Linked DNA regions of Homo sapiens: regions 1 and 2 are each linked to region 3. The links come from fine-mapping of genetic effects on gene expression. A gene starts in region 3. Each other region holds a variant in brackets. All regions are shown on one strand. Distances are from middle to middle.

Region 1 (10,697 bases), 62 kb before region 3:
AACCCGGGAGGCGGTGCTTGTAGTGAGCGGAGACAGCGCCACTGCACTCCAGCCTGGGTGACAGAGCGAGACTACATCTCAAAAAAAAAAAAAAAAAAAGATTAGGTGGGCGTGGTAGTGCATGCCTGTAGTCCCAGCTATCCAAGAGGCTGAGGTAGGAGGGTCACTTGAGCCCTGGAGGTTGAGGCTACAGTGAGTCATGATCACACCACTGCATTTCAGCCTGGGCAACAGAGTGAGACCCTGTCTGAAAAAAAGAAAAAAAAAACTGATGCCTGACCCTTCCTCAAAGATTTTGATCTATTCATCTGGAGTATGGCCAAGCCTAGGAGCCATAGTGGAGAAGTGCTACTTTAAAAGCTCTATTCTGAGCATGGTGGCTCATGCCTATAATCCTAGCACTGTGAGAGGTCAAGGCGGATGGATGACTTGAGGCCAGGAGTTCAAGACCAGCCCGGCCAACATGGTGAAACCCCATCTCTACTAAAAATACAAAACTAGCCAGGTGTGGTGACACACATCTGTAGTCCCAGCTACCTGGGAGGCTGAGGCAGGAAAACTGCTTGAACCTGAGAGTCTGAGGTTGCAGTGAGCTGAGATCGTGCCACTGCACTCCAGCCTGGGTGACAGAGCGAGACCATCTCCAAAAAAAAAAACAAAAAAAACCCACCCTATTCTGCAGTATCAGATTCATTTGGTAGAGCTCAGGACTTAGAAGTTCATTGCTGTGCAGATTCCAAAGGAAGCACAGTCATTTGAGAGAATTGACAGTGTTCCTAAGAAGATCCGTGCTGAGGGGTACCCACAATGGAGAGACGGAGACACCTGTACCCAGAGGCCGAGAGCTAGAAGAGATCCCTCTTCTACAGCCCCTCATCTTACAGCTTAGGAAATTATGTTTCAGAATGGCCGGTGACTAGCCCAAGGCCCCTGTGGGAGTTGAGCTAGTAACAGGGCTGGAGCTGGAACACAGGCCTCCTGACCCACAGCTGCAGGCCCCCTGTGGGGCTCTAGTACTAAAGGGGCTGCGGTACAGGGCTGGGAGGCAGGACTGGACAAACAAGTCTGTCAGAGGAGCGGGCAGCTTGTTCAGTGAGCCCTCTGACCGCAGAAGCAGCCCACTGGCTAGACTTGGCTGCTTCTGCACGATAACATCCTATCCACTGGAAAGGTCCTATTTGTTTTCTGTTCACCTTCCCTCATTGATGCTTTCAGGGAGCAGTCCAGCCTTTGCATCTGCTACTCTGCCTGTCTAAAAGCAACATCATTGCCACATGTTGCAAAGCTGAGCTTTGTGTCAGCCATCCCATTTCTGGAAAGTCTTCCCTGTCACACACCAGCTAGCCACCTCCACACTCCTCCCGTGCTGGCCCGAGGCTGCCAGCTCTGCCCCTAACTGCCTCTGTATCCTGAGGCACCTACCCAGCCCTTGTCAAGGTCCTCACTGACCACCAAAGGATCCCAGGTCTTCCAATTCAAAAATTCTCAAGTTGGGCACTCTTTGCTGACTCTTGTTTTTCTTTTCTTTTTTTTTTTTTTGAGACGGAGTCTTGCTCTGTCGCCCAGGCTGGAGTGCAATGGCGCGATCTTGGCTCACTGCAATCTCCGCCTCCCGGGTTCAAGCGATTCTCCTGCCTTAGCCTCTCGGGTTCAAGCAATTCTCCTGCCTCAGCCTCCCGAGTAGCTAGGATTACAGGCATGTGCTGGCTAATATTGTAACTTTTTTAATAGAGACGGGGTTTCTCCATGTTGGTCAGGCTGGTCTTGAACTTCTGACCTCAGGTGATCCTCCTGCCTCAGCCTCCCAAAGTGCTGGGATTACAGGCGTGAGCCACCGCGCCTGGCCAGCTGACTCTTGTTTTTAACCTGAAACAGAAATATCAGCAAGTAGAGCAGTATTGGAAATGATGTTTGAGCTCTTCCCTGAGATCAGTGGGAGGAACTGCCTCTCCCTTGGAAGGGCATGCCACAGCAGCTCTCACTGTGGCGTTCATCAAGAGCTGGTCCTGTCTCAGCTGTCTGAGCTGGCAGCAAGCCCACCCAGTAGCTACTTTTCTGGAGCAGTAGGCACTGCATGCCTGGAGCTCAGGAACACTTCGTGTATCTCCTTAGGGCCAAAGCTAGGATTCCCAGACCCTTTTTTCCAGCACTGATGGTTTCCTAGGAGTTTACTTTGGCTCTACAGCCCTGGGTTGGATGGGTCAGGTTAATGTATGCAACTTTGAAGGGGCCCAAGACAGACTCAACCAGAGAAAAAAATGAGATTTATTTCATTACTGGAATGAAGCAATTCTTCGTACAGGTAATTATAGTTCGCAGCTTTTCAGGGGAAACTGGGTCAAGGTTGGAAAATAACCAAGTAAAAAGTATTTTCTGACGTTATCATAAGTTCAGCAAAATAGCTAAGGATAATCCAAACATGTTAGTAGATTTTTCTAAATGTCCTCTTATCTACTTAGGAGAATGGAATGTCGTGACACTTGAATTGGTGCCATGCCTTAGCATGAGGGCCCGCCTGTTTTTGGTGTCCATTTAAGGTGGTAATGATACGAGTTTTTAAGTTAAAATGGCACTTAAGGTGTCTTTTTTTTTTTTATCTTTTTCATCCAAAATAGGTAAAACCTTGTTAGCCAAAGCAGTAGCAAACCAAACCTCAGCCACTTTCTTGAGAGTGGTTGGCTCTGAACTTATTCAGAAGTACCTAGGTGATGGGCCCAAACTCGTACGGGAATTGTTCCGAGTTGCTGAAGAACATGCACCGTCCATCGTGTTTATTGATGAAATTGACGCCATTGGGACAAAAAGGTAGACTTTCTCATACTTATTTTGCCTTGTTTAGTAGGGAACACCGCATAGCTCTTCTCTTGAGAATGAGCAATCTCAGGGGGCTCTCCCTATGGCCACAGTTCTTGCTGTGCGTGGCCTTCCATGCATGCTTTAGGCTCTGCTCTCCCAGGAGCCAGCTAACAACTGCCCAGTAACTGTGAACGTCTGGAGAGATTGGTCAGTTATGAATAACCATGTCTTGAGCACCCGCCCTGATCCAGGACCATCTGGACTCTAGGGACACAGTTGTGAGCACAAGTCTCTGCCCTGGAGGAGCTCACAGGTTGTAGGGATCAGATACCAAACATGGAAACAGAATAAATGATACAATTTCAGACACAGAAACTGCTATGAAAAAATATGATCTGTAACTTGGCTGATGGGAGCGTCTTAGTCCATTTGTGCTGCTAAACAAAATACCTTAGGACTGGTATTTGTATAAAGAATAGAAATGTATTTCCCACAGTTCTGGAGGCTGAGAAGCCCAAGATCAAGGCACTGGCATTGATGTCTAGTGAGGGCTGCTCTCTGCTTCCGAGATGGCACCTATTCTGCAGAGGAGACAAATGCTCAGGGGACAAACAAAAGAGCAAAAAGGGCCTACACTAGTTCCCTGCAGCATTTTTTATAAGGAATACATGCTGTATAAGGCCTTTTTCTCTTTTTAGAAGGAACTCATGCTGTATAAGGCTCTGCCTCATGCCTTTAGCCCTTTCCAAAAGGCCTCATCTCTTAGCCACACAGTAGGGATTAAGTTTCAACACATAAATTTGGGGAAATACATTCAGACCATGGCAAGGGGTGCTGAATTTATTTTTTCCGAGCATAATTGAGGGAGTGCCATGTGAGTTGAAACAGGAATGTTTGTTAAGGTGTTTTGTCACAATGAGGTCTTTGCTGTAATTCCCCTTGAGCAGGCGATCAGTTGAGTCTTCATTCCTTCCCTTTTTTTTTTTCCAAAGATATGACTCCAATTCTGGTGGTGAGAGAGAAATTCAGCGAACAATGTTGGAACTGCTGAACCAGTTGGATGGATTTGATTCTAGGGGAGATGTGAAAGTTATCATGGCCACAAACCGAATAGAAACTTTGGATCCAGCACTTATCAGACCAGGTTAAATTTGCTTTGGTTTCATCATGGAGATTAATGTGTTTATATATTTGTGTTTAAGTGTGCTTTGGGAGGCCTATAAAATGATACATAAAAAAGCAAATACTGCAGTGAAACTTAGGATAATTTACAAAAAAATAGGTCCTCTTGAGATGAGGGTTAAAACAGAGCATGATATGGTCTGTGCACCTTGGCCCTTTGAATTCCAGTCTTATGTCTTGTCTTTTCTTTTCCATAACATTCCCTTTTTAGCCTCAAGAACTTGCTGCTTTTTCTGGAAGAAATAATTCATGTGATGGTAGGATTTGTCCTTTTTACATTCAGGTAGCATCAGAAGAAACAGTGATTTGTTTGCTGTCTTTTGTAATGTTTTTAACACAATAGGTCTGCCCAGTTTCACTCAGGAATTGCTCCTTTCATTTATTTCTGAAGGTACCAAAGCAGAGAGAGTTTCTTTTAAATGAAGAGAATTCAAATGTAGAAATCTACAAACTACAAAAATATATGTTTACTTTTTAAAATTTAGACATCCTTCCCACAGAATTCTGTCCGACTGAAACTTCGTATGTAAGGAGATGGGCTGAGGCCTCTGAGCCATGGCCGAGCCTGGGTTTGGATGTTGGTGTGACTTCAAATCTCTTTGTACCTGCAGGCCGCATTGACAGGAAGATTGAGTTCCCCCTGCCTGATGAAAAGACGAAGAAGCGCATCTTTCAGATTCACACAAGCAGGATGACGCTGGCTGATGATGTAACCCTGGACGACCTGATCATGGCTAAAGATGACCTCTCTGGTGCTGACATCAAGGTGAGAGCCTAGCCGTGTCAGCTTATTTCTGGGAATGTGGCCGTCAATCAGGAAAGAGTCTATATGTGCTCTTGGGATGGTGGTTGGCCTGGACAGGTGGGTGTCTGTATTTTAATCATCATATTGGTTTACGATTACATCCAAATGGTATATGTGCTTGATATTGAAGTCATTCTTAATGCATCATTTTATGCAGTGAATGACGCTAAATCACCTGGAGCCACAAGGCTGAGTCGCTGGTACTAAGCCTTAGGCCCAGGTGACTTTCTCAAGGTGTGTCAAATGTAGCTGCTCAGTCCCAGGTCAGGGGAAGGGTATGTCCTGGGAGAACTCTCCCCAGAGCCGCAGAGTGGGGACCAAGCACCCGCTGCATTCATCTCCCAATCTGTGTTCTGGAAGGTTGTACCAGATTATACTTCTTGGTTTTATGACAAATGTACATGAGTTAGGACATTTCCTCCCAGCTGACCAGAATTTACAGCAAGGTCTGGCAGCGTTGAATATGGGTTCTACCTGCTTTTCCTGGAAAGAGCTGGGTTTTCGTTGGGCATAAATGCCATGGTTAGGTAGGGACAGCACAAGCAGTGCCTTTCCAGGCCAGCACCTGCCCTGAGCCCACGGATCATTGGCAGTTAGTCCTAGAGAACTAGATGTCTCTGTTGGCAAGTAAAATCTATCTTCTTTTTTAAAAATTGAAAGATCTTAAA[A/ATTTTAT]TTTTAAGATAAGAACTTACTTTGACAATTTTCAAGCCTTCAAAAAAGTTGCAACAATAGCACAGTGATTTGCCAAGAGTTAACATTTTACCTGTTTGCTTTTTCTCTTTCTATACACAAAACTTTCTTTTCACCCGAACCATTTGAAGTAAATAACCTGATGGCCATCACCAAACAAACTTCTGTGCCAGGATTGTGTTTTTTGCCACATCTTGTTTTTGCCACAGTAATTACTGGCCAAAAGAAAAAGAAAACAATAACAGTAACCCACATAATATGTTTGTTTGCTGTCCTTCTCTATCTATTTCCTTCATTTCTCTTTCCTTTCTAAACAGATCAGGCCTAAAACAATAACAGTAACCCATGTAACATGGGTTATTGTTTTCTTTTACTTTGGGCCAGTAATTACTGAGAAATTAAATATATTGGAATAAATGCTATACTCTGTAGTATTATTCCATAGTATAGATACTGCCACTTACAGTATCTAACCAGAATACATGTTCTTTTATGACTATAAGTAAATGAAATAGACATATACTGTCAATTGCCTCTAAGTTTCAGGGCATAATTTTGTTTATTTCCTAGGAATATTATTCTCTTTAACAAAAGTGGTGTTGTACAAGCCACATAGCTTGTTAGAACCTGAGCCAAAACTAGAACCCACAGCCCTGACCCTTGGGTCAGTCTTAGTTACAGTAACTCCCAGTTTAAGCCACTTCACATCCTTTCAGAAAATAGGATGCTTAAAACATTTTTTTTAAAAATCAAATCTTTCCCAAATAAGCAATTTGTGTTTAGTCTAGGTGTCTCATGCTTTATTTCAGAACAGATTTTTTTTTTTTTTTTTTTGAGGTAGAGTTTCGCTCGTTGCTCAGGCTAGAGTGCAGTGGCGCGATCTCGGCTCACTGTAACCTCTGCCTCCCGGGTTCAAGCAATTCTCCTGCCTCAGCCTCCCGAGTAGCTAGGATTACAGGTGCCTGCCACCGTCCCTGGCTAACTTTTTGTATTTTTAGTAGAGATGGGGTTTCACCGTGTTGGCCAGGCTGGTCTTGAACTCCTGACCTTAGGCGATCCACCTGCCTCGGCCTCCCAGAGTGCTGGGATTACAGGTGTGAGCCACCGCGCCTGGCCTCAGAATAGGTTTTTTGGAATTCCTTGTTAGAATAAAAATGAGTATGTCACTTTCTGAACACACTCTTCTTTCTTACAGGCAATCTGTACAGAAGCTGGTCTGATGGCCTTAAGAGAACGTAGAATGAAAGTAACAAATGAAGACTTCAAAAAATCTAAAGAAAATGTTCTTTATAAGAAACAGGAAGGCACCCCTGAGGGGCTGTATCTCTAATGAACCATGGCTGTCATCAGGAAAATGGTTGGGAGATTTCTCAATCCCTGAAAGGGATGAGGTTGGGGGAGTTGCCCAGAGGAATCCCTGTTCCCACTGATTTTTATTAGCAAAACATCCTGTGTCTTTTGGAGTACGATGTGTAAGTGCCCATTGGGTGGCCTGTTGGTCACTGTGCAGCAGTCTGCTTCCCAATAAAGCGTGCTCTTTCACAAACACTTCCTGTTTCTGCAGTCTCCACACACACCTACCGCTCAACAGCAGCCTGTGGGTGGACCCAGCTACAGGGAAGCCTTTGGACAGGAACTCAGGCTGCGGTCCCAAGGAGTGTGGACCTCACTATGCGTTCGCCACATCACACCCCCAGAGCTGGCGTTCAACGGTAATTACAGTGGGAAATGGTCACTACCACAGAGCCAGGGATATTCGTTGTTTAAATAATAAAGGCTGCGTTAATGTGGCTATTGCTTCCAAAGGAAGTACAGCTTTCCTTTTTGGAAGTTTTGTGGACCATGCATGTTCTTAGCACTCTGAGGGCAGAAAATAACTACTGGTGTTCCCAAGAGACTGAGGATTCCTAGAGATATCTTGAAAGCCCTTCTGAGCCCTTGGGCTCAGAAATCTCATCCCTTTCAAGGTGTTCAGAAACATGTCAGAACTTCCCCTTCCCTTTCTCCGTCTATTTCCGTCATTTCTCTTTCTGAACAAATCAGGCCTAAAGCTATTAAGTGGGACAGATCAAGGTAAGCGTTCCCTTGACAGGTGGCCTGGTGTGGGTTGTAGGGCCCACACTGAATGAGGAGTGTGTATTAGTTTTCTGTTAATACTATAACAAGTTACCACAGGCTTTGTTTAAAAACAGCACAATTTGGCCAGGCACGGTGGCTCACGCCTGTAATCCCAGCACTTTGGGAAGCTGAGGCAGGCGGATCACAAGGTCAGAAGTTTGAGGCCAGCCTGGCCAACATGGTGAAACCCCATCTTTACTAAAAATACAAAAATTAGCTGTGCGTGGTGGCAGGTGCCTGTAGTCCCAGCTACTCAGGAGGCTGAGGCAGGACAATCGCTTGAACCCAGGAGGCGGAGGTTGCAGTGAGCCAAGATCCCGTCACTGCACTCCAGCCTGGGCGACAGAGCAAGACTCCGTCTCAAAAATAAATAAATAAATAAATAAAAACCACAATTTTATCTCAGTTCTGTAGGTCAGAAGTCCAACACGAGTGTCTCCAGGCTAAAGTCTTGCTGTTGGCAGGACCGTTCCCTCTGGCGTCTCTAAGGGAGAATCCGTTTCCTTGCTGAGGATTATTGTTGGCAGAATTTAATTTCTTGGAGTTGTGGGCCAGCTGAGGTCAGCATTTCCTTGCTGGCTGCCAGCTGAGGCCTTTGCCAGTCTGTGAAGGCCACCCTCCCTCCTGACTCGTGGCACTTCATTTTCCACCAGCAGCAGCAGGCCCAGTCCCTCTCTCCCACCGACCCTTCTTTCTGCCTGCCTTTTCTATTCTTATGGATCCTTGTGATTGCATTGGACCCATGCAGATGATCCAGGATAATTTCCCTGTTTTAAAGTTTACAATCTTCTTAATTTTTATCTGCAAAGTTCCTTTTGCCATGTAACATTCACACGTTCCAGGGCTTAGGGTGTGGCCATCTTTAGGGGCGCCACTCTGCCTACCACAGAGGACATCCACACGTGGGGGTGGCCCAGTGCAGGGTAAGGACGGGGTGCTTGTGGGGAGGGCGGGTGTCAGCCCAAGTAGGGTGTGGAGCTGTCCATGTGGAGGAACACCACAGCACGGGGACTCAGCATGGGCAGGGTGAGGCTGGCATCCGTGTGGGGTGTATGTGCAGGGCTGGGGTGGTCCGATAGGGGGAGTCAGTGTGGGCAGCCTGATGTGCAGTATGAGAGCCCAAGTGGGTGAGGAAGGCATCTGCAGGGACGGGGTGGTGGCAGGGGAGGGAGGCTGCTTATGTATGGAGGCAGTCAGGCAGGTAAACAGGACAGTGGGAGCCAGGTTTCTCTGAGGAGTTAGACACAGAAAGAAGAAAACAAGAACGACCTCTGTCCACTGGGAGCACCTGGGAACAGTGACACCCCAACTGCAGTGAGCACCCCTAGACCCAGACCTTTGCTGCTAAAAGTATTATTCTCCACTAAAAGGAGTGAGGGCTGATTCCGGGGCTAGGCAGGGAAAGGACAGGATGAACCCAAAGTCTGTTTTGCCAGAAAGCAAGGGAGTGCTCAAGGAATGATAAGGACATGTCCTAAGGACACCGAAGCCTATGTGAAGGGGCTTCCACTGGCCAAACTCGGGACAATCTGAGCATCCTAACAAACAGTTACTATTAATGGAATACAGTATAGCCCTTTAAATAGGGAACTACACACACACACACACACACACACACACACACACACACACACACACACACACCCCAATACATATGAATTGATCTGAAAGTTTGCTGAGGAAGGGGTATTTACAGATTTTGAGAGTCTGCCACAAAACACTGTTCAGTTAGAAAGGGAAAGTCACACTGGAGATGCCCAGCAGACACCGTCTTCACCAAGTGGTCAAATGCACATCATCAGTAATGGGCACTTTGAAAGTACGTGCCACCCAAGAGTGTCAGTGCTGTCACACTCCTGCCAAAGATGCTTAGCCTGAATCCAGTGCTGAGGAAACACCAGGCAAACACAAACTGAGGAACATTCTACAAATTCAGAACACTTCAAAAGTATCCACGTCTTGGAAGTCAAAAAGCTTCCAATCAGAAGGAGACCAAAGAGATGACAACCAAGTGCAGCTCCTGCTCCTGAACTGGATCCTTTTCCTAGAGGACATGACTGGGCCTGAGGACCTGCTAGGAGTACTGCGTCCATGCTGACTTCCTGTTCAGTGTCTGTATCGTGGGCGGGTAGCAGACTCTCAGCAACTGACTCACACGGTTCAGGAAACAAAATTCTTTGTAACGCACTTGCATCTTTTCCTAAGTTTGAGATTAAAAAAAACAAAAAACCCCAGCACATCAGTATTGCCTTTTCCTCATTGGTAATAGCTGAGCGTTTTCCTCTAGAGGGACAGTCTCCCTCATGTCAATTCTACAAAAGCAGCTAAAGCAAATGCCAGGGCCTAGAGTGTCAGGGTAGCGGGCTGAACTGCGCCCCACCCCAGCTGCTTCTCCAGTTTGCTTACTGACCAAAATGCTGAAATTACCGTTTCGGCAGCTGGTCACTGAGGCCTGCGGTGCCAAGTGCAGGGATGCAGGTATGAAGTGCTTGTGAAATAACAGAATTCCCACAGTAATTTCTTCCCTGGCTTCCTGCACTGGTGAGCCGGACAGGGAGAACCCCGTCTGCCTGCGGAAAACCCACTGGCTCTTTGGAGCCCTTCCTCAGTAGAACAATTTAAGGTGAACTCTCCCATCACTCCCTCTGCAGCAAGCCTATCTTCACTTTTCCAATGCAAAATGATATGTGTGCCTTACAAGTAGTAGCTGCCTCCTCCTACTGGGAACACAGCACAGAGGTGCCTCCTGGCCTCCTGCAGGCCCAGCAATCCTGTGCCAGAGGCATTGCCACTGCTTCATTCCAGGAAAGAACACTGTCCCAAACCCGAGGTGGGCCGACCCCTGTGGTCTGATGTGATCAGTGACTCCTTCGGGGAAATGACGAGCGTTCCTGATGAAACACATGAGCCACTGTTTGACTCCAGCTGGGAACCCCCTTCTCAGCCCTCCAAGCTGACGGTTAGTCTTGGGAGGCACGTAGTCATCTTTCAGAAGTTCATGTCAGCAATCTCAAACGGGCTGTTTTTTTTTTTTTTTTTTCGAGACGGAGTCTTGCTGTGTCGCCCAGGCTGGAGTGCAGTGGCGCGATCTTGGCTCACTGCAAGCTCTG
Region 2 (10,697 bases), 34 kb before region 3:
TATTTGGTAGAGATGGGGTTTCACCATGTTGGTCAGGCTGGTTTCGAACTCCTGATCTCAGGTGATGCACCTGCCTTGGCCTCCCAAAGTGCTGGGATTACGGGCATGAGTCACCAGGCCTGGCCTGAATTCTTAATTTTATTTAATTTTAAATAGCCACATGTGGCTAGAGGTTACTGTATTAGACAACACAGTTTTAGAATGCTAAATGACATTTGATGATGGCACTAGTTTAGATTTTCTTAAGTCATCCGAATTTTTAGCCAGGGACCGTATAATTAATTATGACCTATGCTCACTAGAACTTGCCTTTAAAAAAGCCAAATCAATATCCAATAATTTATTTCACTTTGTTTCCTAACTCTGAACATGTAGAAGGGAAGAGGAAGAAAGCCAGAGTTATCTGTAAAGTTCAAGGTTAAAAAATAAAGTATACAAAATGGTACAGCCACACAGGAAATCATTTTGGCAGTTTCTTACAAAACTAAACATGCACTTAGCATAACTGCACTCTTGGGCACTGATCCCAGATAAATGAAAACCTACGTTTACACAAAAACCTATATGCTAATACTCAGAAGCAGCTTCATGCATAATCGCCAACACCTGGAAACAATCCAAACATCCTTCAGTAGGTTGAACAGTTAAGCTGTGGTCCATTTACACAATGGAATACTACTCAGCAATCAACATGAACAAACCATTGATATATGCAACAATTTGTAGGTATCTCAGGGAAGTTATGCTAAGTTAAAAAAGCCAATCTCAAAAAGTTACACAAAACACAACTGTTCCCAGGGATGTGGACAAATCGGAAGCCTGGTGCCCTGCTGGTGGGAATGTAAAATGGTGCAGCTGCCGTCTGCTGTATGGAAAACAGCATGGCATACTAGACACAGGATTACCATATGAGGCGATTCCACTGCTGAATATCTACCCAGGAGAACTGAAAGCAGAGTCTCAAACAGATACTGTACACCCATGTTCATAGCAGCATTATTCACAATGGCCCAGAGGTGGAAGCAACCAAAATGTGCATTGACAAATGGATGGTATACACACATAGTGGAGAAGTGTTCGGCTTTAAAAAGGAAGGAAATCCTGGCGTGACATGGATGAACCCTGACGACACTACGCTAAGCGGAATCAGCCAGTCACAGGAGGTCAACTACTGTATGATTCCACATCCACCAGGTTCCTAACGTAGTCACATTCATAGAGACAGAAAGTAGAATGACTGCTGGGGCCTGGGGGGAGGGAGAAGTGAGGAATTTGTCTTTAATGGGTACAGACTTGGGGAAGATGAAAAAGTTGCAGAGGTCGATAGAGGTGATGGCTGCATGGCAGTGTGAATGTACTTAATGTCACTCAACTGTACACTTAAAAATGATCAATTTTATATTATATTTTACAACTAAAAAATTTTGTTAATGTTATATACCTTATGATTCCATTTATATAACCTTCATGAGATAACAGGAAAACAGAGAGAGAACAGATTAGTGGTTCCCATGAGTTAGGAGGGGGAAGGGGCAGACGTGGCTAAGAAAGGATACTGTGAGGGAGCCCTGCAGTGATGAAACAGTCTGATCTTGATTGTGGTAGTGATTACACAAAGCTACACACGTGACAGAAACTGCCTAGTACCATAGAAACACACACACCAATGAGTGCATGTAAAATGGTGAAATGTGAATGAACTGCAGACTGTACCAATGTCAGTTCCCTGGTTCTGACATTATACTGTGGTACTACCACTGGAAGGAACTGGATGAAGGGTGCACAAAACCTCTGGGTACATTTTTTCTACTTCTTGTGACTCTATACTATTTCAAAATAAAACATTTTTAAAAACTTAAAACACATAATATGTATACGTAGTATAATAATAATATATTGTGTATATTAGCATTATAGATCATATATATTAGCATAATGTATATATTAGCATTCTATTATTCCACCAATATTCTGCCTAAATGCTCTTCTGAGTTTCTCAAAGAAGAAAACTGAATGTATTTATCACCTTCTTCTAAAGATCTATGTTTAAAGTAATCCTTTAATCACCCTGAAAAACTCTTATAAGAGAAATTACCTTTGTGAGTCATACATCAGACTTAGATACCTGAATTTACTACATTAAGGACTCAAAAGATTACAGAGCTTTGGACACACATTCATGTATAACAACTACATACTAACAGAAAGTGAGGGCAAGAGAGAAGAAACATGCTATGATAAATGCTTGACTGCAGGATGAAATCAACTACCCTCTCAACGCTAACCTTTCAGGGTAAATAAGAGAAGTTAAAAATAAAATAAAAACAAAAATTGTTATCAATTAGGTTTGCTGGAATCAAGAAAATTTTCAGCCTTTCTTTTGACCCTTCTAGTTTTTTGGAGGACTTCCATTAAATTCATTAGAAAGAAATTCATAAATTCAGCAAGTTTCTCCATAATGGAAATGTGTGAGAAGCTTGCAGAGAATGTAAGTACCAACACAAGTCTCTAACTTGATGCTAAAAGTCAAGGTTTTGATATTCATTTGCATTCCCTTTTGGAGAAAACTAACTTTACACCTGATTTTAAGTGACCATTAGATATCTGGAAACTTATCAGAAGTAAAATTAGTCTGTGGACACTGCTATGAAAACTTTATTGTCACAGAAATGCAGAACACAGCAAACCGTGTAACAGATACTATGCATTGTAATGGGCTCGCTCTCTAACAAAAACCAAACAAAACCAAAAAACAAAAAAACTAAGCCTAAAAACACAGACCCATGCTAAGTCAGTCACTCAGAGAGGAGAGTTACTAATCAGACTTCTGTTTTTTTGGCCTTTGCTTATGCGGTCTTGCAGACTCAGTGGCTGAGTGCAATACCTACTTCCGTTTCATGCAGGCTGTTTTTCTTCATACATAAAACCACTGGTCAGCCTGATGAATAGTTCTCATTCTTTTTGGAAAAGAACACTCCAGGGAAATCTAAACAGCTGAGACTCTGACAGCCCCAAGTGAGGCATGATCACTGCCTGACAGCACTGCCCAGAGGAGAGTTACCCCAAAACACCTGAAGGGCCCCTCTCGCTTCTTAGTGGTAATAGAGATGCTCCCTGGCCCGGAGCTCTGAACTGTCGTGCAAGACAATACCTAATCCAAAGTTTTCATGGTGCAAATGAATAAACAAAGAAAGGTCACACCTGTGAGAAGAGGCTCACTGAGCCTAGGCAAGGAGTCAATCTCCTGAGTCCTTGTCCATCACTCTTTCCCTATAGAACTTTCAACGAAATCATCATCTGCCTGGCAGATCTCTCTCTATGCTGGAACTGCCTTTCGGGGAGTGAAGCAGTTCCTGAATGTCTTAGAGTTGTGCTGTCCAATACGTCACCATTAATATGTGGCTATCAAGCACTTGAAAAGTAGCTAGTCTGGGCTGGGTGCGGTGGCTCACATCGGAAATCCCAGCACTTTGGGAGGTAGAGGTGGGCGGATTACTTGAGGTCAGAGGTTCCAGACCAGCCTGGACCAATACAGTGAAACCTTGTCTCTACTAAAAATACAAAATTAGGAGGGCGTGGTGGTGCATACCTGTAATCCCAGCTACTTGGGAGGCTGAGGCACAAGAATCCCTTGAACCTGGGAGGCGGAGGTTGCAGTGAGCCAAGATCGAGCCACTACACTCCAGCCTGGGCAACAGACCAAGACTCTGTCTCAAAAAAAAAAAAAAGAAAAAAAAGAAAAGTAGCTAGTCTGAACTGAGATTTGCTAAAAGTGTAAAATACACACCAGATTTCAAAGAGTACTAAAAAAAGAATGCAAAATACCTAGTTAATAATTTTTTTTCTTTTTAAAGCATGCAATTGGCATCTGAATCTCTGGTTAATAATTTTAAAATACTAATTACATACTGAAATGTTTTGATATACTAGATTAAGTAAAATACACTATCAAAATTAACATCATCTGTTCCTTTTTACTTTTTTAATGTGGCCACTAGAAAATTTGAAATTACACAAGAGGCTCACATTATATTTCTATTGGGCAGCTCTGTATTAGAGTATAAATCTGGAAAGTATTTGGGGGTCATTTAGAGTGACAGTTATGTAAATGCTAGGTAATAATTACTTTATAATAGTCCTAAAAAGGTATTTTTCAAAGTATCTGTTGGTCTGTACACTGACAGGATAACAAAAAGACTGTCTGAAATACACACTAAAAAAGAATGGGGTCGGGCGTGGTGGCTCACACCTGTAATCCCAGCACTTTGGGAGGCTGAGGCAGGCAGATCGCTGGAGGTCAGGTGTTTGAGACCAGAGAGACCAGCCTGGCCAACATGGCGACCCTATCTCTACCAAAAATACAAAAATTAGCTGGGCATGGTGGCAGAAGCCTGTAATCCCAGCTACTCAGGAGCCTGACGCATGAGAATTGCTTGAACCCAGGAGGCAGAGGTTGCAGTGAGCTGAGATCCTGCCACTGCACTCCAGCCTGGGTGACAGAGCGAGATTCTGTCTCAAAAAAAAAAAAAAAAAAAGAATGAGGATTGGGGCAGTTATTAACAAGATTCCTTCTTCAGTTGCAGCCTATAAAAGGAAAAAGGGAAATTACAGAAACTTTCAAATCCTCAAAGCATTATGTACTGAAGGAATAAGTCCACTGCTTTAAAACTTCTAAGGGGAACCCATGACATCTACTTAACATTTTTGACATTTTGATGTTTGTGCAATATTCTGAAGCTACTGATAAATAGCTTAAGCAGATAAATAATCATGAGGATGTAAAAACAAATTCCAGAAGAAACAGAAGTACACGTCTTCAATGAGAGGTGACTTACCTGGGTTGATGACCACCCAGCCACCTCGTTCCTGCTGGTGCATCCACGCCTTCCAGCCTCGGGCTCCCTTCTCCCCAGCCCGGGGCTCTCCACTGTCCCAAAAGGGTTCAAAGAATTCCACCTGTTCAGATTTTAGAATGGACGTTAGACCTCACTTGTATAAAACTGCTGAGTCAGTGGGCAAAATCCGCGCTGGTGGATATAAGAGAAGCTTATGATCCTTGAAATCATGTTTGCCATCAGTCTTTGAAGTAGATACATGCTACACACCCCAAGATAGAAAAAAGATCTATCTAGCGTGGCAGGCAGCTTCCAAGATAGCCCCCATGACCCTACCTCTGCCTTGTGGTTTTCACACTCGCATGTGAGCTGGACCTAGTGATTCCAACACACAAAATATGGCAAAAGTGATGGGGGGTCACTCCCGGGATTAGGTTACAAAAAGACCAGCTGAGGTTCAGCAAGAAGGGTCTCCAGATGGGTAGGAAGGGAGTAGTTTCCTAGTTCTTATCCTGCCAGGCCAGTCTAACCAGGGACAGTGGCACTGCCAGTTCACCTAGTATCACTGGACCCCCGAGCTAATTCCTAAAGTCATGCCGCTTTCAAGATATTTTGAGAGGAAGGTTCCAACAAGACAGACCATGAGCTACGTGACACAACCATATCTTAAGTAACTATATATTCCTAACACCTGGCACAATACTTACTGCCTAGCAGGGACTCAATAAACGCTTGTTGGCACAGATCTGAACAAGGCAGGCGACCAGGGAGTAAAAAGGTCTGCATTTTTTATTTTTATTTTTGAGACAGAGTCTCGCT[CT/C]TGTTGCCCAGGCTGGAGTGCAGTGGTGTGATCTTGGCTCACTGCAACCTCCACCTCCCCGGGCTCAAGCAATTCTCCTACCTCAGCCTCCCGAGTAGCTGGGATTACAGGCATGAGCCACCACACCCAGCTAATTTTGTGTTTTTTTAGTAGAAACAGGGTTTCTCCACGTTGGTCAGGCTGGTCTCCAACTCCTGACCTCAGGTGCTCTGCCCACCTTAGCCTCCCAAAGTGCTGGGATTACAAGCCTAAACCACCGCGCCCAGCCTAAAGGTCTGCATTTTAAAGCCTGGCCCCATTAGCACCTCCCTCATTCATTCGAGCATTAGGTGTGTGGTAAGCAGCTCACTGGCAATAAATCTTTCCCTATGGAACAGAATGTGAACACAGCAATGAACAGAAACGTGATCATGTTATCAACTGGAAACAGGACTGTGAAAGTGAGCCAATAACCTACTCAGTGAAAGCTTTTGTAAGAAACCTTTTGAAGAGGACAAGCAGGCTTCCAGTGGGCACAGCATGGGCCATGAGCCACAGGATTATCTAGCCTGAGCCCTGGGCAATGCCACACACGCCTGGAGGAGTATTGCCTCCAGGAGAGTCACGTCAGGGCAGGGCAAACGTCCTGACACGTCAGTCATCCTCAGAAAGGGGAACCAGGACGACTACGCTCCCTCTTTAGAGGTCTGGCTCTTGTAAGAGTGAAGAAAGAAAGTTTACTTAAGAAAAAAAATTTTTTTTAAATAGTGTGATAAATGAGTATAATCTATTTGTTTATTCCACAGAAACGCAGACCAGTAATATCAGACCTGCCTGTGTTAAATCACGCTACTGTGTTCACGGTAACAACGTCTCTCAGTTATAAAAGCAATATGGAATATTAGTAAATAAGAAACTTTATTCCAAAGTTGTCATGTAAATGCTTTGGAATCACATGTGCTATTCGTGTTTAAAACCTCAAGCACGAGGATCGGGGTCTCCCAACACTTTAGAGCAGTGGTCTTCGATGGGTCACATTTGTAGGCAGAACCCTCCACCCATCACTCTGTTCTTATCACAGAGGGTCTTAGGAAAGGGGCAGGGGGAGGGGGTGAGAGAAATTCTGATCCTGACCCACAAGGTTCCTTAGAGTCAGCTGAGAATCACTTCTGTAGTACAGCCTATTCTTAAAATCTCACAGCATGTCTTAAAATTACTCTGTTATATGGTTTATTAATGATTGATTATAGCAATTTAACTGGTATAATTCTTTAATCCAATTTTTTCTAGAGGTAGCATCATGATAAAAATGGTCTTTACTGGCAATTCATGAAACTCCCACATGACGGAGGCCTTGGCCTCTCAAGAAACACTTTTGAATGTTCACCATAAACTCATATATTCTATTTATCTTCCACTAGACATCTTTACAGAGTAGAAAACTGAGTTTTATTTAGTGGAAAAAGGGAAAAGATACATTTTCTTATATACATAGCTCTATAAAAATTCTTTATTTCTTCACTTATCTTCATTTATCTCAAACATTGGCAATGCTCGCTTGTCATCTAAAGGATTAACCCTTCCCCAATAAGGATCACTGTTGACAAGGTATCTCTGTGTAATTTCATTTGCAACTCTAGCGAAGATTGTGGGTACTTAGAAGGTTAACTGAGGAAGTGATGCAAGACCCAAACTAGAATGTGTAAGGGTGGAAGAGAGTAATACAAGGTTTAAAATGGCATGACAACTGTTTCCCTGACTAGGGGAGCCAATCAGCATTTAAACAAAGGCAGAAAGGGGATGGGGGGGAGGAGGGGAGGGGAGGAGGAAGGGGAGGGGAAGGGGGCAGGGAAAGGAAAAGGAAAGGAGGAACACAGGCAGGCAGGCAGGCAGGCAGGGTGGGAGGGTGAGTCCTCAGAGAGCCTTTATGTTGTGAAGGAGGGGGAAGCTTCTTTACCTATCCACATCTCACCATTTTCATTACAAAACTTTCCTCAGATCACTGGACTATTTCTGAGAATTCCTCCTCAGCAGACTGATATAAAGGAGGATATGATATTTTAAAAACACTACCACACCACCTCTCATTATCCACACCACCTCTCATTATCCACACCTTCCCCCTCTCCCTCCAGAGAAAGAGCCAGGAAGAGAGAGATGAGGCGAGCAGAGCTGGGTACCTGTCCTTTGGTAGGCAGATCTTTCACGCTGTCGGGTTTGAAGAAGGTGAAGTCCACCATGGCCTGGAACAATGAGATGGCCTTCTCAGAGTGGCCAGCCTGCCGCAGAAAGTGGCACTGCTGAAGAAAGAGTGCTGCGAACAGGAGGGCAAAGGGGAAGAAGCCTGGTTGATACCGTTAAAGGGAAAGAACCTAACTTCTCAAAACAGGCAATTAACACATTGAGAACACCTTTCACCTGCAATCACTATTAATTTACAAAGCTGTGATACATGTCTTGATTTAAAGCGTCTCACACAGTATTATAATCCAAGTATGTTTGTTCTAATTTTTGTATGAAAGCATCACAGAACACAAATATTAACAACAAAAACTATATATAGTACATAAAAATAAGTCAAGAGGTTGGTCTGAATGCTATCAAATAATCACAGCTCATTATCACAAGAAAAATTATAGAAAAAGGATGGCGTAGCAGATTTTTATCAGAAAGCAAAGAGCTGTATTCAGTTGATCACTAGATGGCATTACTCACCAGCAACTTTCATCCTATGTTCAGAGTCGGCTGTAAACAAATCAAGGTTCCATGTCTGAACATTCCAGTTCATCTTACTTTTGGTACAATTCCAGCTACTAAATAACACTAAGCTATTTGTGTAGATCACATACAGTGACAAATTCAAGACTCTGTGTCAGTGTGATAAATGCTTATATTTTGAGAGCAATGTATTTCTATCTTTAGATGCCAACAGTAATTAATACTCAATAACAGGGGTTGTGATCAAATAAATGCCTGCTCTGTGCCGGACACTGAGCTAGACTCGCCATGGATTATCTCGTTTACTGTGCAACACAGTCCTGTAAAGCAGGTTTATAGTATTGTTGCTGATGGAGAAACTGGGGCTCAAAGAGGACCTGCCCAAGGACACAAGAGAGCCAGTGAAGGGCAAACCCTTCAGGATTCAAGGTCAAAAGTGATACTCTCTGGCTCTGCATAACATGCAGCCTCCAACATCTCATTACTGTCAAAATTAATGTTCCAGGTTCCTTCAGGACACACCAAAAATGTTAACAGCATAATAATACCCAAAACTTCTATTTATGCAGTGGTTCCCAGTCAGGGCATCTCACGGACATTACTGCCTGGGACCCTACAATTGGGTGAGACAGGTACATGCATCTCGACAGATAAGGCCACCGACTGCCAAAGCAGTTAAGAGACTTGCCTATGTTTACTTGGCTAATCAGCAGAACCTTGTCCAGTGATATCTTAACTCTACTGGCCCTATTGCCCCCACCTGCCCTGGGAGCTGGGGGCAAATTTGTTATCAAAAAGAGTCGTAATACTTTTTTAAAAAAATCAGTTCTATCAAACAATTTAGACTTTTTCTAGAATAAATCAAAAATAGATCTTCATTTTCAAGTAAAGCCAAAAGAAAGTCTAACTCCTCCCACGTAACTGGATCTGGTTATCTCCTTACCAAACATGGCCTCTTCCGTGCCAGGCAACGCAGGGTGAGATAAGATGCTGCCGTCCTTAACAGCAGACAAAGTGCTCAAGCATTTTCCATAAAGACTGTGAATTTTTGATATCGAAAAGGTACTAAACTGGCTCTGGCAAAATAAAAGGTATTTCTGCCAAAGGGCTGTATTATTGGGATGCAAAAATATCAGTTTCTGCCACTCTTTGACCAGAGTGGAGGGCTCCCAGAACTCTGTGCAGAGCTTCAGCTTGGCCAGTTTCAGATCCACACTGCTCTGGTTGCTCTCAATGGCCCGCTCCAGAATGGCCAGCTTCTTCTCCAGAATGAGCTTCAGGGACCTCTTTCGCTTTTCCTGCTCTCCTTCCTCGATGGCATACAGGCCAGGACTTTTCATGACCTCGTCCTCAACAACAAAAACACCAATTTACAAATGCAAATGGACCTGGGAGATCCTGAGTTTCAACAATGCTTACTGATTTTCTTACCACCCCCTAGGGACTTTCTTAAACCACCAGTTTGCCACTATTTCTTTTAAAGAAAACCTGGATCCTAAAGTGCTTGTGTCACCTGATATGTTTGATCTTGTATTTATCACTTAATTATCCACTCTCTGCCATTTTAAGCTTTGATTTCTGCATCAATGACTAGCATACAATGCCTTGAAAGTCTTTTCTGAAGAGCAGACCTTACCAATAAAAGGGCCAAATGTGGCACAAAATATGGTAATTGTATGAGTGGTTCAAAATTAGGGATTCAGACAAACCTACAAGTTTTCGAAAGAGAATGCATGGCTCTAACTGGGTAATACACTGAACAGCCCTCTCTCTTTCACAATTCCGTGAGCTCTGCCTGTTCTGTTTGTACTTCAGGAATGCCTCTCCCTACCTGGTGAACATCTCTTCTTTCAAGATTGTGTTGAACTTCACCTTCTCCTTGGTAGCTCTTTCTCCTCCCTCAACACAAGCCATTCCCTCACTCCACTCCCAAGTTATACATTACAGCATTTACTACCCCAGGGTGCACTTATTCTTCGCATGTCCATTTTCCTCATTGGACTTTGAGCGAGCTCAGGGCAAAGGCTCTATTCTAATAATCTTTGTATGCCCAGTGTCAAATTTCCTCATTTGCTCAAAAATTGCTGCACAGTCCATCAGTTTGCCCAAAATCAGGAATGTCCTTCTAAGGTAAGAGAATTGGGATGGCAACACATACCTGAAAAGCAACAAATGCCATCCACAGCTGCGTATCCCGAGGATTCTCCCGCACCCTCCTGTTAAACTCCTCCACCTTGGCCTTGAGAGCCGCACTCTCGCTGTCTGGCTGTGCGTCTGGCTGCTTTGATTCCTGCTCTGGAGGACCCTGTCCTTGTAGCCAATGTGTGGTTGACTGATCATAAATC
Region 3 (10,697 bases):
ACTAGCAGTCCTAGCTACTCAGGAGGCTGAGACAGGCGGACTGCTTGATCCCAGGAATTGGAGATTGTAGTGAGCTGTGATTGCGCCACTACACTCCAACCTGGGCGACAGAGTGAAACCTCATTTCTAAAAAAAGAAAAAAAAAAAAAGCCTACCTGCAATGGATTGAAATATAAACATTAAAAATTCATGACTTCATAATGAAAACAAAAAACTTCACACCTCACTGGTCACCTCTAGAAGTTACTGGGACCCCCAACTCATTATTCTGAAACTAACGAAAGGAATGAATCAAGTATTTATCCCAGGCTAGGCGAGGTGGCTCACGCACTTTGGGAGGCCAAGGCAGGTGGATCGCTTGAGGTCAGGAGTTCGAGACTAGCCTGGCCAACATGGTGAAACTCTGTCTCTAGTAAAAATACAAAAATTAGCCAGGAGTAAGCTGGGCGCAGTGGCTCACACCTGTAATCCCAGCACTTTGGGAGGCAGAGGCGGGCGGATCATGAGGTCAGGAGATTGAGACCACTCTGGCTAACATGGTGAAACCCCCTATCTACTAAAAATATAAAAAATTAGCCAGGCGTGGTGGCAAGCGCCTGTAGTCCCAGCTACTCGGGAGGCTGAGGCAGGAAAATGGCGTGAACCCGGGAGGCGGAGCTTGCAGTGAGCCAAGATCACACAACTGCACTCCAGCCTAGGCGACAGAGAGATATTCTGTCTCAAAAAAAAAAAAAAATTAGCCAGGAGTGGTGGCGCATGCCTGTAGTCCCAGTTACTAGGGAGGCTGAGGCAGGAGAATCACTTGAACCCAAGAGGCGGAGGTTGCAGTGGGCCAGATCTCACCACTGCACTCCAGCCTGGGCGACAGCTAGACTCTGTCTCCAAAAAAAAAAAAAAAAAAAGAAAAAAGTATTTATCCTGTCTTTCCTGCCTAACTAAACTGTATTCAGGGTATCCCAATAGTTCTTCATAGAATAATTGATGTTAATAAATACAGGAGGAATGATATAATTAGAAAACAACCATTTTGCAACCTCAATGAAATAATAATGAACCTAAACAATAATCATAAATGGCTGCAAAAATCATTAGGTGTAAGGTTCATGGGCTGCTTCATATGGGATGAAACAGGTTGCAAACACATGAATCCACTGGTCAATCTTAACATCACTAAAACAGAGAACGTTAGACAGGGCATCCTCCTGAAATGATTCCATAGCAAGTGCATTGCTCCCCCAATGAGGTACTTTCAACAAAAAGATTAAATCTCAATCTAATTAATTGACTAGAGGTAAATACCAGTTTACAGGAAATACTGGAATACAGAAGCATGTTAAGTGACACTATGAGGATTTGGTGGGAAACATTTACAGGACAAATGACACGGTTTCCTCAACAGATCGATCACATGGAATGAAGGAGAGGAAGAAACCGATTTATACTGAAAGAGACCTAAGGCATATATCCACAAAATGCAATGTTGGCTGTATTTTGGAAATTGACTTGGACAATCCAACTGTAAAATCCCATTTTTGAAACATCTCGTGAAATTTGAACACTGACTGGTAAGTGAAAATGACCAGAAAAGAATTAAGGCTTTTTTCCATTACAAGAGATGATGCTGTGTTTATATTTTTTCAAAAGACAATACTTTATAAAACATACTTTTACACACATTTTCCTGATTGTAGATATCCAGAGGATGTCAAATAAATACTATTTAAGAGTAAGACTCCTCTGCAAAAGTTCGATTTCCCCCTCTCAAAATAAAAGGATAAAGCTTTGACATGTTATTAAAGATCACTATCCTCCATCACCACCAGCCCAACCATATTTCCCAAGGCTCCTCTTTATGCCACTACACCTCCAGACAAACTAGATGATTTGCAGTTCTCACACTTTTCTTCTGCAGGACTTGAAGGCCCTGGTATACACTTCCCCCATTTTATTTGTCCAAATCCTACTCTCTTGAAGATCCATCCAAAACTTAGCTCCTGGCTAGGCACAGTGGCTCACGCCTGTAATTCCAGAACTTTGGGAGGCTGAGGCAGGAGGATCACTTGAGCCCAGCAGTCTGAGATCAGCCTGGGCAACATAGCAAGACCCTGTCCCTACTTAAGAAAAAAAAAAGTAGGCTGGGTACGTTGGCTCACACCTGTAATCCCAGCACTTTGGGAGGCCGAGGTGGGCGGATTATCTAAGCTCAGGAGTTCAAGACCAGCCTGGCCAACATGGTGAAACCCCATTTCTACTAAAAATACAAAAAATTAGCCAGGTGTGGTGGTGCATGCCTGTAATCCAAGCTACTCGGGAGACTGAGGCACAAGAATCACTTGAAGCCAGGAGGCGGAGGTTGCAGTGAGCTGAGATTGTGCCACTGCACTCCAGCCTGGGTGACAGAGTGAGACTGCCTCAAAAAAAAAAAAAAAAAAAGTAAAAGAAAAAAATATTAGTTCCTACATAAAGCCTTCTTTGAACCTTCTATTAGAAGTAATTATTCCTGGGCTGGGTGTGGTGGCTCACAACTGTAATCCCAGCACTTTGGGAGGCTATGGTGGGCGAATCACTTAAAGTTAGGAGTTCGAGACCAGCCTGGCCAAAACAGTGAAACCCCATCTCTACTAACAATACAAAAATTAGCCGGGCATGGTGGTGAGTGCCTGTAGTCCCAGCTACTCGGGAGGCTGAGGCAGGAGAATCACTTGAACCCAGGAGGCGAAGGCTGCAGTGAGCCAAGATCGTACAATTACACTCCAGCTTGGGCGACAGAGCAAGACTTGGTCTCAAAAAAAAAAATAAATAAATAAATAAATAAAAAGAAGTAATTAATCCTGCAGTTCACCTATGGTATCTGTAATATCCCACCTTGTACTATACACTTCTTTTAGGTGCACTCATGCATTCCTGCAACACGTAATTATTAAGTAACTACTATCGATCTGTACATCCAGAAAATATTTATTGAACACCTATTATACTTTGGACCTGTGCTAGGGGCTAACTATGCTACAATGAATAGACAAACACTGCCCAACCTGATAGAGATTACAGTCTAGTAAGGGAAGACAACAATTTTACACAAGAAATTACTCACAATTATGAGAAATAGGACAAGCGCAGTGGCTCATGCCTGTAATCCTAGAACTTTGGGAGGCTCAGATAGAGAATCGCTTGAGCTCAGGAGTTCGAGACCAGCCTGGTCAACACAGTGAGACCTCGTCTCTACTAAATATTAAAAAAAATTAGCCAGGCCTGGTGGTGCACACCAGTAGTTCCAGCTATTCATGAGGCTGAGGCAGGAAGTTAAGCCCAGGAGTCTGAGGCGGCAGTGAGTTATGACAGTGCCACTGTACTCCAGCCTGGGCAACAGAGTGAGACCCTGTCTCAAAAAAAAAAAAAAAAATTAGGAGAAACGTTACAGAAAGTGTAGGAACTATATTAGAGGATATAACAGACAGGTAAGACTCAATTGCGCCCTGTCACATATGGCACATAATTTAGAATTACTTTTTTTTCTTTTTTTTTTAGAGACAAGGTCCCCCCACCCCAGGGCAGGATGCAGCGGCACGATCATGGCTCACTGCGGCCTCAAACTTCTGGGCTCAAGCAATCCTCCTACCTCAGCCTCCTGAGGAGCTGATACTATAGGTGTGCACCACCACGCCTGGCTTTTTTTTTAAGAGACAGGAGTCTCGCTATGTTGATCATGATGGTCATGAACTCCCGGGCTCAAACTATCCTTCCACCTACAGGTGTGGGCCACTGCTCCTGGCCAGGATTAATTACTTCTTAAATGAACTATGTACCCCAATTTTGAACAATGCAGCTCTGCTGGAAATGTCTGGGACTTAAGTAAAATGTGTAAAGCCATAACCTGATACACACTAGGCCCTCAAGAATAAATGTTAGTTATTTTCACTGGGTGCTGTGCCCCTCCAGAGAGAAACTGATTAGGTTTTGGATACTAATCCCCTAGCTCTAGGCCGCTAAGTAATACCAATCTAATAAGCATTTCAGAAATAAGTATAACAGGAAAGGAAGTAATATGTAATAAAAACATTCTGCATTTGCATCAAGGGTTTCCTCGAGATGTCGAGTATCATTATTCCCAATTTAAAGATGAAGTAACTGAGGCTCGAAAAGAAGAACAGGACCTAACAACATCGTACAGAAGTCCCAGCTCCAGGGCATCTGCTGGTCTTTCTCCACCCCTCCATAACTCTACAACCTTGGTCCAGAACAGGCCTCTGGGCCCCAGACCTCGGAGGGATTGAGCCTTTCCCAGAAGGCTTTGCAGCGCCGCGGAGAACTCTGGGATACAAATGGATACACAAATCCAAAGCAAAAGTCTAGACCTGGGCCCGAGAAACAGCCTCTTAAGCCCCCCAGGTGCCTTCTTCGGCTCGTTTGTGTGCTTACCTTTCCTGGAGCTCCCGCCATCGGGAGCCTCACTAAGCCCCGCAAAGGCTGGGAACAGCGCCATGACCACAGGCCGTACCTCCGTTCTTCTCTATAGGGATGGCGCCGGCGAGCGAGCGCCGGTCTGAGGACCCCTGCCGTCGCGGTGCACTCTGGGAAATGTGGTTTTCGCGGCGCTCTCTGGGGCTTGACCCCGAAGCGGGAGGGGCGGGGCCCAGAGAGGAGGGTCGTCAAGGGACTGGGGCGCGGCGGGGCAGGGAGAGGCAGGGCAAAGCAGGGTGGGGCGGGGCCAAGGGGGGCGGAGCGAGGAGTGACGGGTTCCTAGTGGTTGGGACCCTGTGAGAACCGGAACTGCGAAAACCGGAGAAGGGAATTGTTGACCGCGAAAGGGACTAAGGAAATTGGGATTCCAGTTCGACCCCTAAATTCACACCATCCTTGCTAACTGGGTCAACTTAAACGCTCTAAGCATTACTTTCCTTATCTGCAAAATATTGAGAAGATTAAATGAACATATTTATAAAGGGCCTAGCATTGAGTCCGGCCCATGAAAAGCACTTAATATGTGTTAGCTATTATGTGAATTACGACTGCAAGTTCGGCTCAAAGTCATGTGAGATATCCGAACTTCAATCAGGTTACCATATTAAATACCCCAGAACAAGGAAAAATGGAAAGTCCCATCAAGTTCAAGGGTCTTTGATAGTTAGGAAATACCTGTCTGTGAAGCATTCTTGACCCCGGTTCCTCCCACCCAAAATCTAATCACACTTGCTACCAGAAATATAGAGAGTAAAGGAACAACTTAGAAGACTTTGTACTACCAAGAAACAATTAGCCAAATCTAGAATATGGGAAATTATAGAAAACAACCGTGCTTCCTTAACATATCAAGGGCTTTAAGAGGGCAGGAGATTGTAATAGATACGAAGATCTTACAGACACATCAAGCAAATACAACATATTTGTGGCCTCATTATAATTCTGATTGGACAAACTGTAAAAAGACCTTTTTAAGATAGATGGAGAAATAAGAAGGTAGGCAGAGTACAAGCAATTCACAAGTAATTCTTGTGAATTCTGTTAGATGTACTAAAGTACTTATGTCACTGAGGTGACCCTTATTTATTTATTTTGAGACAAGGTCTCCTTCTGCCACCCAGGCTGGAGTGTAGTGGTACGATCTCTGCTCACTGCAGCTTCGAACTCCTCGATTCAAGCAATCCCCTCACCTCAGCCTCCCAAGTGGCTGGAACCACAGGCATACACCACCATGTCTGGCTTAATTTTTTTTTTTTTAATAGAGACAGGGTTTCACCATGTTGCCCAGGCTGGTCTCGAACTCCTGGGCTCAAGCGATCTGCCCCCCTCTGCCTCCCAAAGTGCTGGGTGCCTGTGCCTGAGCACCCCCCAACCCAGCCTGAGATTACTTTTTAAAGTTCTTATATATTAGAGATATATACTGAAATATTTGCAAGTGAAAATAGATAGGTAAATGAAGATATATTTATTGGGATCCTAGGGAGTTAAAGATCTTTAGTTAGGAAATACATTATAAACCAGAGATGCAAATGTAATCATCTAATCAAGGAATGGATGGACTCTGATGAAGTCTGCAGACCTGCATAAGAATTAGGTTCTATGAGTCCAAAATAGACACCCTTAATGCTTTGAAGTCCCTGGCAGAGTACTTACAAAAAGGAGCTTAGTATGACAATAGGGGCAGTAATTCCTGTATGTCTTCAACTTTAAATCTCAGGTTCTGCCAAAATCTTTGACTCTAAGTTACCTCAATTAATTGGGGCAGCATTTGTCTTTCTTAGCAGATCACTTCAGGTAACTGGGATGGAAATAGTCTATCCCAATGCCTCCTATCTTTCCACCCCAGAAAAGTAAGAATTAATATGGAAGTTTTAAGAAATTAAAACCATAATAATAATGTTTCTGTAATACAAAGGAATCTGGGTATACTAGGTATATTGTGTACTTACAAATGTATAAGAGAATGTTGCTCAAGAGACCCTCCTCATAAGAACAACTGAAAGTGTATAATCAAGTAACTGATACAGACTCCTGGTTTTAAGTTAAAATCTTTTTGTGTTTGTTTTGTTTTTGAGACAAGATCTCCTCTCTCGCCCAGGCTGGAGTGCAGTGGTGCGATCATGGCTCACTCCAGTCTCGACCATCTGCCTCAGCACCCCGAAGTGCTGGGATTATAGGTGTGAGCCACCATGGCCGGCAGTAAATTGAAATCTTAATGAGGTTTAAGCAGTTTCAGGATATCCAAGAGAATCTAAAGCTCGCCATATTTGTAAGTGTAATTGGTTAGCTTTATAAGAATAATGGGGTCCTATTGCAGGAGCATGAGGGAGGCTGAAGATTCCATTTCGAGGCAGCTCTGAGCTCACGAAATAGACACCATGAGCAAAGCTCACCCTCCCTAGTTGAAAAAAGCTTTTGGACAAGAAGTTAGAAGCCTTAGAATGAGTATAAATAATGGCTGTTCAACAATAATAATAACAATAGGAACAAACTACTGATACATACAACATGAATGAATCTCAAAATTGGTATGCTGGGTATAAAAAGCCAGGCACAAAGAGTGTTTACTGTGTTATTCTCTTTATACAAAATCCTAGAAAATACAAATTAATATATAGTGACAGAGAGTGGATCGGTGTTTCCCTTGCTCTGGGAACGAAGAGAGGGATATTCCACAGAGGGGTGTGGAGAATGTTTTGGGCTTGATGGAAATATTCTGACTCTTGTTTATGGTGGGGGTATCACAGGTGTGTAACTGACCAAGTTCTTAAAAGCTTAAGAACAAACAAGGGTTTTCAATTTGTTTTTAATACATTGGATGCCAATCTTTTAAACACTGTGTCTGCAAATTTTTTTCTGGAAAGAGTCACATAAAACATATGGTATTGGCTGGATGCAGTGGCTCACACCTGTAATCCCAGCACTTTAGGAGGCTGAGGCGGGTGGATCACTTGAGGTCAGGAGTTTGAGACCAGCCTAGCCAACATAGTGAAACCCCCGTCTCTACTAAAAATACGAAAATTAGCCGGGAGTGGTGGCAGGCACCTGTACTCCCAGCTACTCAGGAGGCTGAGGCAGGAGAATTGCTTGAACTTGGGAGGCAGAGGTTACAGTGAGCCAAGATCGTGCCACTGCACTCCAGCCTGGGCAACAGAGCATGACTCCACCTAAAAAAAAAAAAGACATGTGGTCGCAACCACACTGAAATTTGAATTTTATACAATTTTCACATGTCATAAAATGTTATTTGCCTATTTTTTCAACATTTATATACGTAAAAATCATTCTTAATGCATAGGTCATACCAATTGGCAGTGGGCTAACCTGACCTATTGCCGTAATTTTCTAGACCTATGCAAACTTTTTATTATTAGAGTCAACTAAAAGTAAACTTTTGAGTAGTCTTCTCTGCATTGAAAAACAATCGCAGAAAGAATAAAAACAACTCACTTTATTATTATTATTATTATTACTATTTCAATCTATAGGCTTTGGGTATTTCCAGTGCATATGGCAGGGATTTCTCAGAATAAACAAAGATGTTTTCAGATAATGATTTGGCTTTGTATATAGCTTGACTAAAGGAAGGGACTGAATTTCTCAACCACTTTTAAGTATCTCTCTTCTTTGTGGCAGAAATAACTCACTCTAGACTGTTAAGTTGCTGTTTTGCATCTATCTCATTCTCTGGGGTATTCTCATTAGCCTGTATTTGTCACAGATCTTGATCGCCTCTGGACCCTGACATGAGTGAATCTTTTCCCTGAAGATGGCAGGAAGGAAAAGGAAAAACAAAAACAAAAACAAAAACAAAAATCCTGCAGGAGAGAAATGTGAAAAGAGGCTTTGTTTTAGTTGCAGAGGAGTTGGATAAGAGTTTTGATCTTAATAAAGCAGGCAGCTAGTCTGTCCATAAAAAACAAACAAGAGGCTGGGTGCAGTGGCTCATGCCTGTAATGCCAACACTTTGGGAGGCCAAGGTGGGAGGATGAGGTGTTTGAGACCAGCCTGGGCAACAAAGTGAGATGCTGTTTCTACAGAAAAAGTTAAAAATTAGCCAGGCATAGTGGTGCATACCTGTGATCCCAGCTACTTGGGAGGCTGAGGCAGGGGGATTGCTTGAGCCCAGGAGATCAAGGCTGCAGTGAGCCATGATCGCACCATTGCACTCCAGCCTGGACAACAAAGCAAGACCCTGTCTCAAAAAAAGAAAAGAAAAGGAAAAAAAAAAAAGAACGGAAAAGAGGTGGGTATGAGTGAGAGCTAAAAACTATAGAAAACAACCTTTAGGTTATTCCAGAAGACATGATATGAACAAAAGGATCGGCAAGAGGCAGCTAGATACAAAATAGGTAGGTACTCAGTACTTGTTTGCTGGCAAAATACTGCATACATAATTCCCACTCACTTTTGGAAGAGGATATTATAGAAAAAGGAATAGGGGGCCAGCCATGGTGGCCCATGCCTATAATCCTAGCACTTTGGGAGGCTGAGGCAGGTGGATTGCTTGAGCCAAGAACTTCGAGACCAGCCTGGGCAACATAGTGAAACCTCGTCTCTATCATTTTTTAAGTAAAACTAAAAAAGGAAAAAGGAATAGGTAGTGAACATGTTTTATTTTGTTTAACTGGCAGGCTCCTTTCTGAATCCACAAGAAGTCCTATCAGTACAATGTGGTCTGGCTGTCCCAGCCCCATCTGACAGGTTAGGGTAAGTGCATGACCCAGCTCGGTCATGTCCTTAGTTGATAGGTGCTCAACCCAGCTCTGACCCAAGCCAGGCCAAGCAAAGTTCTTTTCCATGAATTTTGAAACTAGAACTGAAAAGGAAAAAGTTGTCTGTCTTTGTGTGTCTAGACTGCAAGATATAATAGTCCAGGAGCTGGTGGAGAAGCAGAGTAAACTGCCTGTAGAGAGAAGATAAAACCAGGAGTGAGCTGGACAGGACGGGCCCTGGGATTTTGGAACTCTAATTCTAATTCTCCCTGGAGCTCTGCTGCATTCCTATGCTTGGGTTCTAGGAAACCCAATATCAATATCATTATAATACATCTCACATTTCAGTAAACAAATTCTGCCACTTGCTACCAAGAGTCCTAAATGATACAAAATGAACAAGTGAATGAATAAATAAATGATACCATTTCCACACTCAAAGTCACAAACTCAGAACCTGAGGGTACTCCAATTATTAATAGTTCGAATGACAAATGACACTTTTAAAATGGTGTACTCAGAACATGTATAAACAAACTTCATTCACCTTAAGAGGGAAAGAATCCTCACTCACTGATCAAGAAAACTGGAGAAACGGGTCTATCAACTCCATCAATCTTTAGGAATTTTCTGGTAGTTCCTATGAAGTCAAACAAAAGAAAATGTGCCCTTTGGACAGAAATATCAGCAAGGAAATAAAAGAGCCTGAGCCACTTCACTGGTGTGATCTTTTTTCTGTTTTATTTTATTTTGTTTTGTTTTGGGGTGATGGGGGTCTCAGGTTGGAAATGTCTCAATATGTGGACACAATCCCAAGTAACAGATCTTCAGTCATAGCTAAACCAGCCTATTTATGCCTAACTCACAATTCACGCACTCCAGAACCTGCTAAAATACGTAAGGTTATGCAGAAATTAGAGAAGAATGACACCAATAACACTTAATAACTATACCGCCATCTAGAATAATCATTAAGAGAACCCTGCTTGGGTTTACTGTGCTATATGGAGGCTGGTGTATTCTGGGTGAGGACATTTTTAAGAGCCTTGGATAAGAGTGACTTTAACCAGAGTTTTAAAAGGTTAAATCAGTATTCTTGGGTAGCTCACTCTTAAACTAGCCCCTCTTCCCAAAGTGCTCTGAAACAATTTTCAGCTTTCGTTGTGATTATAGCTCTTCCAGAAAGTGATAGGTTTTATGTTATGTTGATAGTGAAAGAGATCAATGAAACAACACAAACCTCTTTTTAAAAAAATAATTAAAAAATAGGCAAATAGTTAAATCCCCACTGTTCAGGCTGCCTTTCTTTGACTAGAAAAATGACATTTTAAGAACTGGTTTGGTCCCAGTCTCCATTTAAAATCTCCTTTTTTGTTGTTGACTTTTGTCTCTCTGGCAATTCTCCTGGCTTGTGGGTGCCCATTTTTAAAGTGTGGCCAGAGGTATTGGCTGGTTCCTGTCTTCCGCCTTGTATTCCCATCTGCACCTCTCTTCATTGCCTCCTCTCATTGCCAAAAAGAG

Direction of the effects. Positions count from the first base shown, and alleles are read on the strand shown. Sizes are in standard deviations (SD) of each study's normalised expression. Not every link is listed here.
In carriers of allele A in region 1, the expression in tibial nerve of the gene that starts at base 4,520 in region 3 tends to be higher than with ATTTTAT alone (small effect, 0.27 SD a copy in GTEx).

What was found.
Region 1: its variant is fine-mapped to the expression of NRDE2 in tibial nerve (GTEx, PIP above 0.99). The same link has a PIP of 0.9 or more in subcutaneous fat.
Region 2: its variant is fine-mapped to the expression of NRDE2 in whole blood (TOPMed, PIP above 0.99).

The regions. Positions count from the first base shown.
Region 1 is chr14:90,265,609-90,276,305 of GRCh38, forward strand. PSMC1 (proteasome 26S subunit, ATPase 1) reads left to right here. Exons shown (of 11, transcript NM_002802.3): 8 at 2,616-2,805; 9 at 3,789-3,940; 10 at 4,590-4,744; 11 at 6,665-9,821. The coding sequence ends at 6,799. NRDE2 (NRDE-2, necessary for RNA interference, domain containing) reads right to left here. Exons shown (of 14, transcript NM_017970.4): 14 at 2,252-10,697. Among named protein-coding and RNA genes, the nearest start is that of PSMC1, 14 kb to the left of the region's middle. The variant A/ATTTTAT (reference allele first, on the strand shown) is at 5,452.
Region 2 is chr14:90,293,425-90,304,121 of GRCh38, forward strand. NRDE2 (NRDE-2, necessary for RNA interference, domain containing) reads right to left here. Exons shown (of 14, transcript NM_017970.4): 5 at 10,511-10,697; 6 at 9,296-9,701; 7 at 7,815-7,948; 8 at 4,836-4,956. Among named protein-coding and RNA genes, the nearest start is that of NRDE2, 33 kb to the right of the region's middle. RefSeq lists a silencer at 9,381-9,675. The variant CT/C (reference allele first, on the strand shown) is at 5,655.
Region 3 is chr14:90,327,422-90,338,118 of GRCh38, forward strand. NRDE2 (NRDE-2, necessary for RNA interference, domain containing) reads right to left here and starts at 4,520. Exons shown (of 14, transcript NM_017970.4): 1 at 4,420-4,520. The coding sequence starts at 4,483. RefSeq lists an enhancer at 4,274-4,453 and a silencer at 4,604-4,753.